Linked DNA regions of Homo sapiens: region 2 is linked to region 1. A link means that fine-mapping ties the variant in region 1 to the expression of a gene that starts in the linked region. Tissue or cell type: whole blood. Region 1 holds a variant in brackets; the other region holds the start of a gene. All regions are shown on one strand. Distances are from middle to middle.

Evidence for each region. PIP is the estimated chance that this variant, and not a neighbour inherited with it, causes the effect.
Region 2: RSRC1 starts here. The variant in region 1 is fine-mapped to the expression of RSRC1 in whole blood (GTEx, PIP above 0.99).

Annotation. Positions count from the first base shown.
Region 1 is chr3:157,933,491-157,938,645 of GRCh38, reverse strand. No RefSeq gene overlaps it. Among named protein-coding and RNA genes, the nearest start is that of SHOX2, 170 kb to the left of the region's middle. The variant C/T (reference allele first, on the strand shown) is at 2,644.
Region 2 is chr3:158,107,389-158,112,543 of GRCh38, reverse strand. RSRC1 (arginine and serine rich coiled-coil 1) reads right to left here and starts at 2,455. Exons shown (of 10, transcript NM_001271838.2): 1 at 2,321-2,455. RefSeq lists enhancers at 1,882-1,931, 1,793-2,292, 2,142-2,491, 2,293-2,794.

The DNA.
Region 1 (5,155 bases):
ACTTGGTGAGTAAGAGGAAGAGCTTGTCTTGGCTAGTCCATATAAGCTTTGACCACACTGACTTGCAGGCTGTCACTCAAACCAGTGGCTGCCAAAGGAGGTCACAGATTCATCCAAATGGCTTTTAATAATTTGGCGTTACTTTCATGTGAATAATTTATAATCCCCAAAGTATGAGACTGTTATTTATGGTTAGTAGCTGTGAAATAATGAGGCACATGGTTTTAAGGCTGTTTTTATTACCAAGTGGTGTCTGTACAGTTGTAGGGACTTAAAGGGAAGTGGAAGTGGATTTTTTTTCTTTTTAAAGATTATATCAGAGGCAGAAATGATATATCACAGATGAGAATAATACTGGCTGTCTCTTCAAATTTATCCATTACAAACACCACACCATTTCTTTGAAATGGGAGCTTAGAGCAGCATTCTGGCAGTTTCTTGAAGTCGGTCGTTTTCACTCGCTGAGGAAATAAAAAACGGACTTGTTTGGTCTTCGAGTTTTGGTTCCTACTGGGAATAAGACAATTAAGTATCGCTTTTTATTTTCATTTTGGGTTTTAAAGAATAAAAACTATGTTGTCTGTGTAAAAACTTGGGAAAAGTAGATGTGTATAAATAAAAAAATTACCTGTTATCTCACCAATACATTTTAACAAAAATAGGATCATAATGTGTAGTTATTTTATCCTGTTACTTTTGGTCATTTTGCACATTATTAAATAGGTTTTGAAAATGTTATTTTTAATGATTGCAAAATATTCCACTGTATAGATGTTATAGAATTTCTTATTATTTAATAATTTAGATTTTTCCAATTTTTTATTGTTATGAGTAACTCTGTGATGATAATTCTTTAACAGAAATCTTTACCTACATTTCTGATTATTTTCTCTTGATAGATTTCCAGGAGGGCAGTTATTGGGCCAAATAGTAAGAATATTTTAAATCTCTTGATACATATCACCAAAATACATTCCAGAGAGTTTATAACAATTTAGAAGCCTACCAACAGAGAGAATGGTCATGAGCTTTGAAAAATTTAGCCAAGTTGATGGATTTAAAAAAGATGCACCATTATATTAACTTGCAGTTTCTGATTACTAGTAAGCAATTTCAATGTTTATTAGCCATTTTATTTATTTTTTGAAAAGTGGCTGTTAGTGCCGTTTGCCTGTTTTATTGTTTTGTGCAATTAGCGCTTTCCTTCCTATTTGTAAGAGCTTTTTATATATTAAAAGATATCCACTTCATTTTGCACTTTAAATCTATTCATTTTGTAATTGAAGAGAACCATGTAAGTTCTATATCTATCTCATTACACAATGATGCGTGGATGCCAAATCTCAAGTAATGAAAATGTGGTTTATAAAATTTTATAATTAGCTATTTACGCTCAACAACTTTAGTTTATTTTAATTGATAAATATTTATTTGTTTTTACTATTAGTCATAGTTATATATACATATGTAACTATGTATAACTGTGTGTATATATGTATTTACAGCAAATATATGTAATTGAGATGTATATCTGTCTATCTCATAACTGTTACCTATTACAGACAAATAAAAAATCATCTCCCTATAACCACAAATTTTCCTACCAATAACTGGAGATTTGGTTCAACATCTGCCTGTAAGGAAACAAAGATGTTTAAGATGGCTTTCACTTCTCAGGCATTCACAATCTGGTGGGAGAGCTGGAGGTGTGCACAATTAGCTTTCACGTGCAGCAGAATTTGATAAGTACAGCAACAGAATCATAAAGAGAATGAAACAGGCTTATCTAGGAAGGAGAGATTAAACCTGACTAAGGCAGTCCCTTTTTGAACAAAGAGTTTTGAAGTATTTCTTACCTAATAGATAATTTATAGCCTGGTTTTGACTCTTTTAAGCCTGGCCTTGCCCTCACTATACATGTAGGTCTTTGACAGGAAGAAATGAGACCAACAGCAGGAGTGAGGATTGGGGACTGAGGGAAGAGTGGAAGAGGAAGGATGTTCTAGGTAGAGGGACAGCTGGAATGTGGAGGGATGGCTTAGGAAATTGCAGATATGGCAGTGCATGTGGAGTGAAGGTGGAGAGACTGGAGTGGGGATTAGTAAACTGGTGAGGCAGGTAAGGACCAAATGGCAGGCATCTCTGAACGCCAAACTGACAAGAATTCATGTTGCAAGCAATGGGAAGTCTTTGAGTGTTTCTGAACAGGTGAATGTCATGATCCAGGCTGTTTGAGACAACTTTGCTGTTGCAGGTATGAAGATTGAAAGGGAGGACCAAAGAGGAAATAGACAACCCAGCAGGGAGGTGAATAGTAAGTGGGGTAACTAGCAGAGAGTCAGTGGAAAGGAGAGAATGGATCTGACAGTTTGGAGGCAGACTTGCTAGGATTTGACGCCTAATTGGATATGGTGAGGAGGAAGGGAAAGAGAGGGAGAAAGAGGAGTCCAAGATAAAATTGAGGTTGGGAGCCTGAGCAGTTCAGGCAGTCCAGCTTAGATTCCCATCCTGGGGAGTGAGTTTTCTTTAGTATGGCTCAAGAGGTATAACATCATGTGGCGGGCTGGGATTAAGGATTCTGGTTTTGTTATCAGAAGAAGAACCCCTCCTCCTTCACCTCTGGCAGGGGCATTACAGCACATT[C/T]GAGACTCTGGAGAGACTGGCTGGAGCTTTCTCACAATTACCTGTCCAAAACATATAATAAGCTGTCAGACACTGGACAGGTGCCTCAGCCCTTTACAGCCTCAGCATCCTCATCTGAATTTATTTCCTTGTGCAGTTTTAAGAACTAAGTGAAATAATGAATGCAAATGCTTTGCAGTGTGGCTGGGAAATAGTAAGTGCTCAGTAAATGCTAGCTCTTTTGTTCATAGTGGTAAGCATTTTGGTGCTACTTTTGAGAAATAACAATAGCAATATCCCCATGTTAAGTTCAAGCACTTAACATACAATAACAATGAAATGAAATCAGAGGGCTGCAAATTCATAAAATAAAGAATATCTGATCTAGAAGTAAGGGATAGAACCCTAAGCTATACTGTGTTCATTAAAAGGAAGTAATTTAAAAAAGACTACATTTGATGGTTTTTGTTCATGAAGGGAAGGCTTCTGATCATCTAAAATGTCTTTCTGTATTAAATTAAACTAACCAACAGTGATTATAACTACGTGATCATGATCTCAAACAGCAATTCAGTAAATGTATATAGCACCTGGTCTGTGGGAAAGTGATTGATCTGATAAAAAGTCTGTATTTACACCCTAAGCCTCCATGAAACAAGGTCCAGAAAGACGAAAGGCAAAAGATGTGAAAGTTTTTATGAAGGCAATAATGGCCACTTGACTATAATTTCAAGGCTTGCCTCTTTCATATCAATATTCAATTTTGATGAATTTTTATTTTCTTATTTTTTAACATTTCCACTAAACTTTATTTTTTAACATCTGACTCTTTTGGAAAAGCAGGAAATAAAAAACAAATTTGTTTGATTTCTTGGCAATTTATTTTGCATTCAAAGCTGTCAAAGTTTTTTCACATTTGAGAAATGGTCCTTGTTTCTACCATCATATTTAAAGTATTTGTGGATTTGATCATCAAAAAATAAGACATGAATGGATAATAACACATTGAACAAAACAAAAATTCATCAGTCTATACTAATAATAAATAAATAAATGAGGGAGTGGGAGGAGAAAGCTCTTTCTTACAGCAGAACTCAAACTAATAAATGTAGACAAAATGAAGATTGATGAAGTTAAAAAAAACCCACCATTTTGTAAGCACCAGGAAAGGATCATTAATAGATGCTAAAAGTGTGGGTAAAAATTTGATAAGGAAGAGTTTCAAAATTTCAAAGGATAGTTTCAAAATATCTCCCCAAATTATTCATCAATTACTTAAAGAAAAATGATAATATTACACTGAAACACCTGGCAAGATGCCACCTTCACCAAATGATCAAAGTGAGCATCACCATTCATGGGATAAACCAACATTATGAGCCTCCTGATATGATCTCATGGGAAGGACACAGTATCATTTTTATGCCATTCCTGCTAAGAACATGCATAACCTGAATTTAATCTACTTACTATAAAACATCAGACAAATCCAAGTTGAGGGGTATCCTACAACATAACTGGCCTGTTATTTTGTAAAACTGTAAAGATCAGGGAAAGACAAAGAAAGGCCGAGTAACCGATTTGGATTAAATGAGACAAAAGATACATGACAACTAAATGCAATGTGTGATCCTGGTTTGGATCCTGAACAAAAGGGGAAAATTACTATAAAAGACATTTTTCAGACAATTGGTGAAACTGGAATATGGCATGACGACAATAGTATTGTATCAGTGTTCAATTTTCCAATTTTGAAAATTTTACTGTGGTTATGTATGATAACATTCTTGTTTGTGTAAAATACACACTGAAATTTTAACAAGTAAAGAACAATTATGTATACAACTTACTCTCAAATGATTTAGAAAGAATATGTGTATATATCTTTATGTACGTATGTGTATACACACACACACACACACACACACACACACAGTGAAGCAGGGAGAAGGAAATGCAGCCTACTCAAATTAACAGCCCATTTATCAGAAGAGAGTGATTTATCACTCTTAAAAGGAAAATATTATGTAAGAAACAAGAAGAATGTGAAGAAAGATTGTAATTATCTTTTCTCTGATTCTTATTGGCTGAGTGTACTTGTGTGAAAATGTAGGCATAGGTAGGCACTCACCTTGCCATTGGTTTTGGGACTATCTTCGGCTAAATGATTGGATAGCTGTTTAAGGGGTGACAATTTTTCCCTTTCTGGAAAATCAGAATGTAACTTCTTTTCACATAAGTGTTTCTTGAACACTTGGCTTTGGACAGGTGTTACACGTGTGGTTTTATAGTTTGTTATTAAAACTATAAAATTAGACTTCCAAATTTGAAGTCCTCAATCTTTTTTTGGTGGGGCAGTGGGAGGAATCTCACTTAGCTTGCCTTATTTTAATTGTTTATTGATCATTCAACTAGTTATACTCCTCAGTAGAAGGAAGCTGTCAAAAAACTTTGGTCTCATTTTTTTTTTTCACCTTGATCTTTGACTGTTATTTGCTAAATACGGTAGGAAAATAAGGGTTGGAAACCCATC
Region 2 (5,155 bases), 170 kb before region 1:
AGAAAGCAAAAGGTCACCATATTTCTTTGTTATAGTTAACTTCAAACATTTATTCACAAAAGGGAGTGAATACTAACAGCAAATCACAAAGTAGATCCCAAAATTGTCTTCTCTATAAATGACAGGTACTGAAGTCCTACTCACCACCACAGACATAAACTTACCCCTGGATTTCCATAATATCATCAGCATGTAATTAAATATACTTGCCAATTCAAGACATGGTAATCAATTTATATTACATAGTCCTAGTAAGGAAGAATTCTTTATACTTAACTCCACCAGTAAGGTGCAATGAATGGAAAGACACATTGATAGTTCTTTCTGATAAGGGCAATGAATGATGAATGGAGCACAGGCTTTTAGAGTCCTACAAGCTGACAATTTTCAATCTATCTGTAGGTGAAAGAGACAACATGGGACAGAGCTCCTATAGCTCTTGGTTTCCTGTTCTCACTCTAGTTCTTCCTGGTTGTAGCCTCGTGGTTGCAAAACTCACCCAACAACTCCCACTACAGAACTGAAGCCATGGCATGTAATGACTACAGGAGGAGATCAATTTACAGAAATATCTTAATGTAAAGTTCACGTGCCTGATTGAAGAGGTAAAGCCAACATGTGGTCATTCAAGAAAAGAGAACTCAAAGGACTACACAAGTAGTTCCTTTGTCCAGTTATTGATAAGGGTACAAGAAGCAGTTATCTCTTTCAGAAAACAGGCAATCAGTTTGAAGAACAAAGATTTCCAAAGGACATGATAGCTTATAATTACTTCTCCACTACTCACTCAGTATATCAAACTATAATTTTCTTGATTCTGGACACATGGCCAGAAAAAGTGAAAACAATGGTTATTTCAATGGGAAATCCACCTCAAAGAAGAAAAGTAAAACTGGGGTGAAAACTAACATATTAAGAAATCCATAAACAAGTACACAACTCTTTATCTCAAAAGAGATAAAGAATTCTGTCAAAACACTTCTCCCATCACAATTAAAAACTTGCAAGCATCTCTCTTTTTAAAAAAGCATGATCAATCATAGGAATTTATCCCCAATGGTTTGAACATGAAAGCAGGAAATACAACTATAGATCTACTATAAACAACCCGCTTTCAGAACTTTTCCAATTCATAACACCCCTCTTTGTGAGACTGGTTGAGTTGGCAAGGCCAATTAACAGAAGGTGCCAGCTGTTTTTGTCGTTTCAGATTCTGACATTTTTAGCCCTCTTATTGAAAAACATAAAGTGTTATATCACTTAGCATGAAATCTTTGCCTGCAAAGAAAGTGAATATTTATAAACTCTAAGACTAGAGAGGCTCTTAAAGGATACCTAGTTTCCCCCAAGGTTGCAACTGTCACACCTGCTCCAAATCTTAAACCTGGGAACTCTGCTTACCTCCTTCACTTAGAACTTTTATAATACATCTAAGTTCAAAGATGACAACTCGAATGCTTTCTTGTGACAACATAAGACATTTGAATTTATTTATCTACTACCTAGTTAGCTGGAACACAATTGGGTTACTGCTAATTCTGAAAGTGTAAAAAAATATTTTTTTGTTTAGGTTTCCAGTGTGCATTTAAAGATACACAACCTCTGAGAGAGAAATTACGTCAAGGTTAACCTAAAATCAAGAGCAGGCAACATGCCTTACGGTGCATTGTAACATCTTGCAAAAGTAAACAGAGCCATATGCTCTTGGTCACATGCCACCAGTACAGAAGTCAAAGGAATATATAGTGTGTTTAAGGCGAGCATATTTATATTTCAAGAGAGGAACATCTATTTCACCCTGCACCACTTCTCTCAGCAAGCCAGTGTGAGCCAGAAAGGGTAGGGCGGAATCAGAAAGAGAGCTGGATCTAAGGCAGGGACAGTGGAGTGGATGGGATAGAGGGCACCAGAATCCAGCCTCCCTCTTGCTCCACCCTACCTAGAGCTAGTGAGGAAGCGCCAGGCTTATATTGCAAGATGAGCCAGGAAACCCAAAAGCAGCTATGAAGAACCAGGAACGTGGGGCGAGGGGAGGAGTCGGCGAACTCTCCGACATGTCCTCAAGACAGAAGGCCAAGCTTGAGGCCTGCGGCCACCCACCCACCCTACAGCCACCAGCCTTGACCCAAGGAGTCCGGAGCCTCCCAGGTGCGGGACGCATGCGCACGGTGACACTGCGCACGCCCCGAGGCCGCAGCCCACCCTCCACAGACACTGAGCCGCAAACTGCGCCAGGCCCCGCGTCGCCTCTCGCCGGATCAGGGCCTCGGAGCTCCGCAGCCACGGCTGCCGCTCCCCAGGCCCTGGTCGTGGGCATCACCTGGGTCCAGACCTTTGGGCTCACACCTCCCGTTGACGTGCAAGCGCCGCAGTCCCTGAGTCGTTTCTTTAGATCAGGGCGCCGCCGGCGTCCACCGAACTTGCTTCAGTTTAAGCTCAGCGCCTTCCTGGTTCTAGCGCCAGGCAGCTTCAGCCGAGATATCGAGTGCATCGATGGACGCTGCCAGGCGCTGGGAATGCCGAGGGAGTAGATTGTAACGCGGCCGATTTTTTGTTTGGCGTTTGTTTTGCGTGCCTGTTTATTTTGATTTTATTGTTACCAAAAGCAATAAAGGTGGGACTGGAGAGTGTTATTGTCTTAGTAGTCGTCGTTATCGTCATGGGTAATCAGTAAACAAATCTGCATCGTAGGAAGTTTTGTTTATGACACCTACCCGAAACAAAATTGGTTATCTCACGCTGGGGGAGGGGGAAACTCGCCCAACGATAATAAATCATGGGAGTGTGTCTGTATAGAGTCGTGTGTGATTAAATTGTAATGATTTATTTGCAAAAATGCATTAAAAGTCGGTGTTTCTTCTGCCCTGAAGGTGAAGGCACTCACAAGTTGAGTGCAAATTAGTTTCTCAGATTAAAGTAACTGGTTAGTAGAGGAATAGGAGAGAGCTGCCTGAGGCGAGGCGGGGAGCGGTTTCTTCTGAAAGAGAACTCAAATTTATAGGTGTGTGGAGTTTTTTTATTTAAACCAATAGAAATTAAAGAGACTCAGCATTTTCTGTAATTCATACTACATTACTTATTTTTCCTTACATGGAAATTTTTTCCTCATTTACTCTTAAGCAAAGCTAAAAAGATAAATAAATTGTTGGCCTGGGTTTTGGTCGACTATGAGAATCAACTCATTCACCACTGCTAGATAACCAAGCTACAGTTTTCCGCAGACATTTGAGATGGTGAAAAATCACCTCCACAATATATTTTTCGTAAATAATGTACCTTAACTAGCCAGTTTTGAGGCACCGTTTTAAAACTTAACTACTACAACACTACGTGTATATTTTAAATAATTCAAGAGCTGGGGAAACCCTTGGGGTCCTGAATTTTATTGGAACCTGTGCATCTGTCCACAGACTGTCAGCTGAGCTTTACCATAAATGCTTTTTTTTTTTTTTAAACAAAAACTGTATTTTGAAATGCCCTGTTTCTGGAAGATATTTGCTGTTTAATGAAACAACATCATTGGAACTTTGTGAGCATTTATTAATGTATGAATTTAAAACCTTGAAATATTTTTTAAAGTAACTTCCCTTAGGCCAGTGGAAATCTGTGGTCAGACACTAAAGATTTCTCATGGCTCCATCTGTTATCAACACTACTATTCCTAAATATGCAATGAGCCAAAAAGCTGAGATCATGGGAAAATTTATTGGTTTGAATTACACAATAGTTGTGTCTGTGACTTCCCTGATTACCTTCAAAGTGGTCATCTTTCCCTCAAGCTCAGTAGATGAAATATGACTTCAAACCTAAAAGTCATGTACTTAAAAAGGCAAACAAGTAGCTGGTGGGTCTCCTGATTCCTTAACCGACTTCTAACAGTGGTTATTTTTGAGTTATTTGTGAATATGTATTTAACACCTCAGTTTGAGAGCACCTTGAGCACCGTATCCTCTTAGCTCTCCCTATTACTGGCCCTTCTGCTAAATAATCTTAAAAACAGATTTTCATAAAGGACTAAAGTTGTATGATTATTTTCCTCTGATAATATCAGAAAGTAGTTACAAAGAGTAACCCAAGACTCAATGTGAAATTGTTTCTAAATTCGTATAACTTTGAAACTTTGTCCCTTTTGTGGTGTAACAAAACAAAAGCAAGTACTGATAACAATGTATTCATACCTAAAAGCTATAGCTGCGGAAAAATTATAGACATTAGCTCTCCTAAAAGTGGCAAAAAATGAAATGTTTTAAAAAGGGAAAACAACGTTTCTAAAAAGCATGATATACATAATCCTTAAACTCACCAAACATGAACATTTTAATGTGAGTATTGTAGTATAACATAAGGTTATATCCAGCTTCTATCTACATCTATTTGAGAAACACTAATATATTAAGTTATAATTGTGTTCTCTTTTTGCAAGTGTTTCAGGTTGTTTTGACGGAACTTCTTAAATTATCTGCTAATTTGTTTTGATGCCTTAACCAATATACGGAAGATATACATATTAATGTTCTGTAATTCCTCTTATTTTTACTAAGAGTATTAGATCCAAAATAATGATCAAGTTACCTTTAACTTCCAGAAAGTCTGCATTAATATTCAGAGTACTTGAAAATGTCCCCTAAGCCACACTTAGAGGTATATTTGTTTACACACTTAAATATAACATCATATGTAAATATTCTTTTGTGAGTATGTATTTGCATAGCCACACTTCTCACAGCAAGCCCTGTCCGGCACAATACAGACAAATGACTCAGGAATATAGATGTTCCTCTAACGTAACAAACCGTTCCGATGAAAATAGCCCAGAAATAGAATTTTAAATCGTAAGCGGGGTGGTGGGGGGGGTAGGCAGAGAGACCTTTACTCCTGGCGAGCGTCTCTTTTTTAGCTCTCCGTAATAAATGAAATTAGAGGGGGTACAAACTTAACGTCGATTTTTTTTTCAGACTCGAAGAGGGATAATCTCTTGTTTTTCAAATTAGTAAATAAACTCGGATGTTTCCCAAGATGCTAAAGAAGAAGTCCTGTAATTCACCATAGAGGGGTCCGAGTGCAGAGAGTAAGGGAGAAGGGTGGGAGTTCTGAGACCTCAGAGAGGAAACGAACGAAGTCGAGCTGTCCTTGACCGGGCGCTAAGGAAACACTT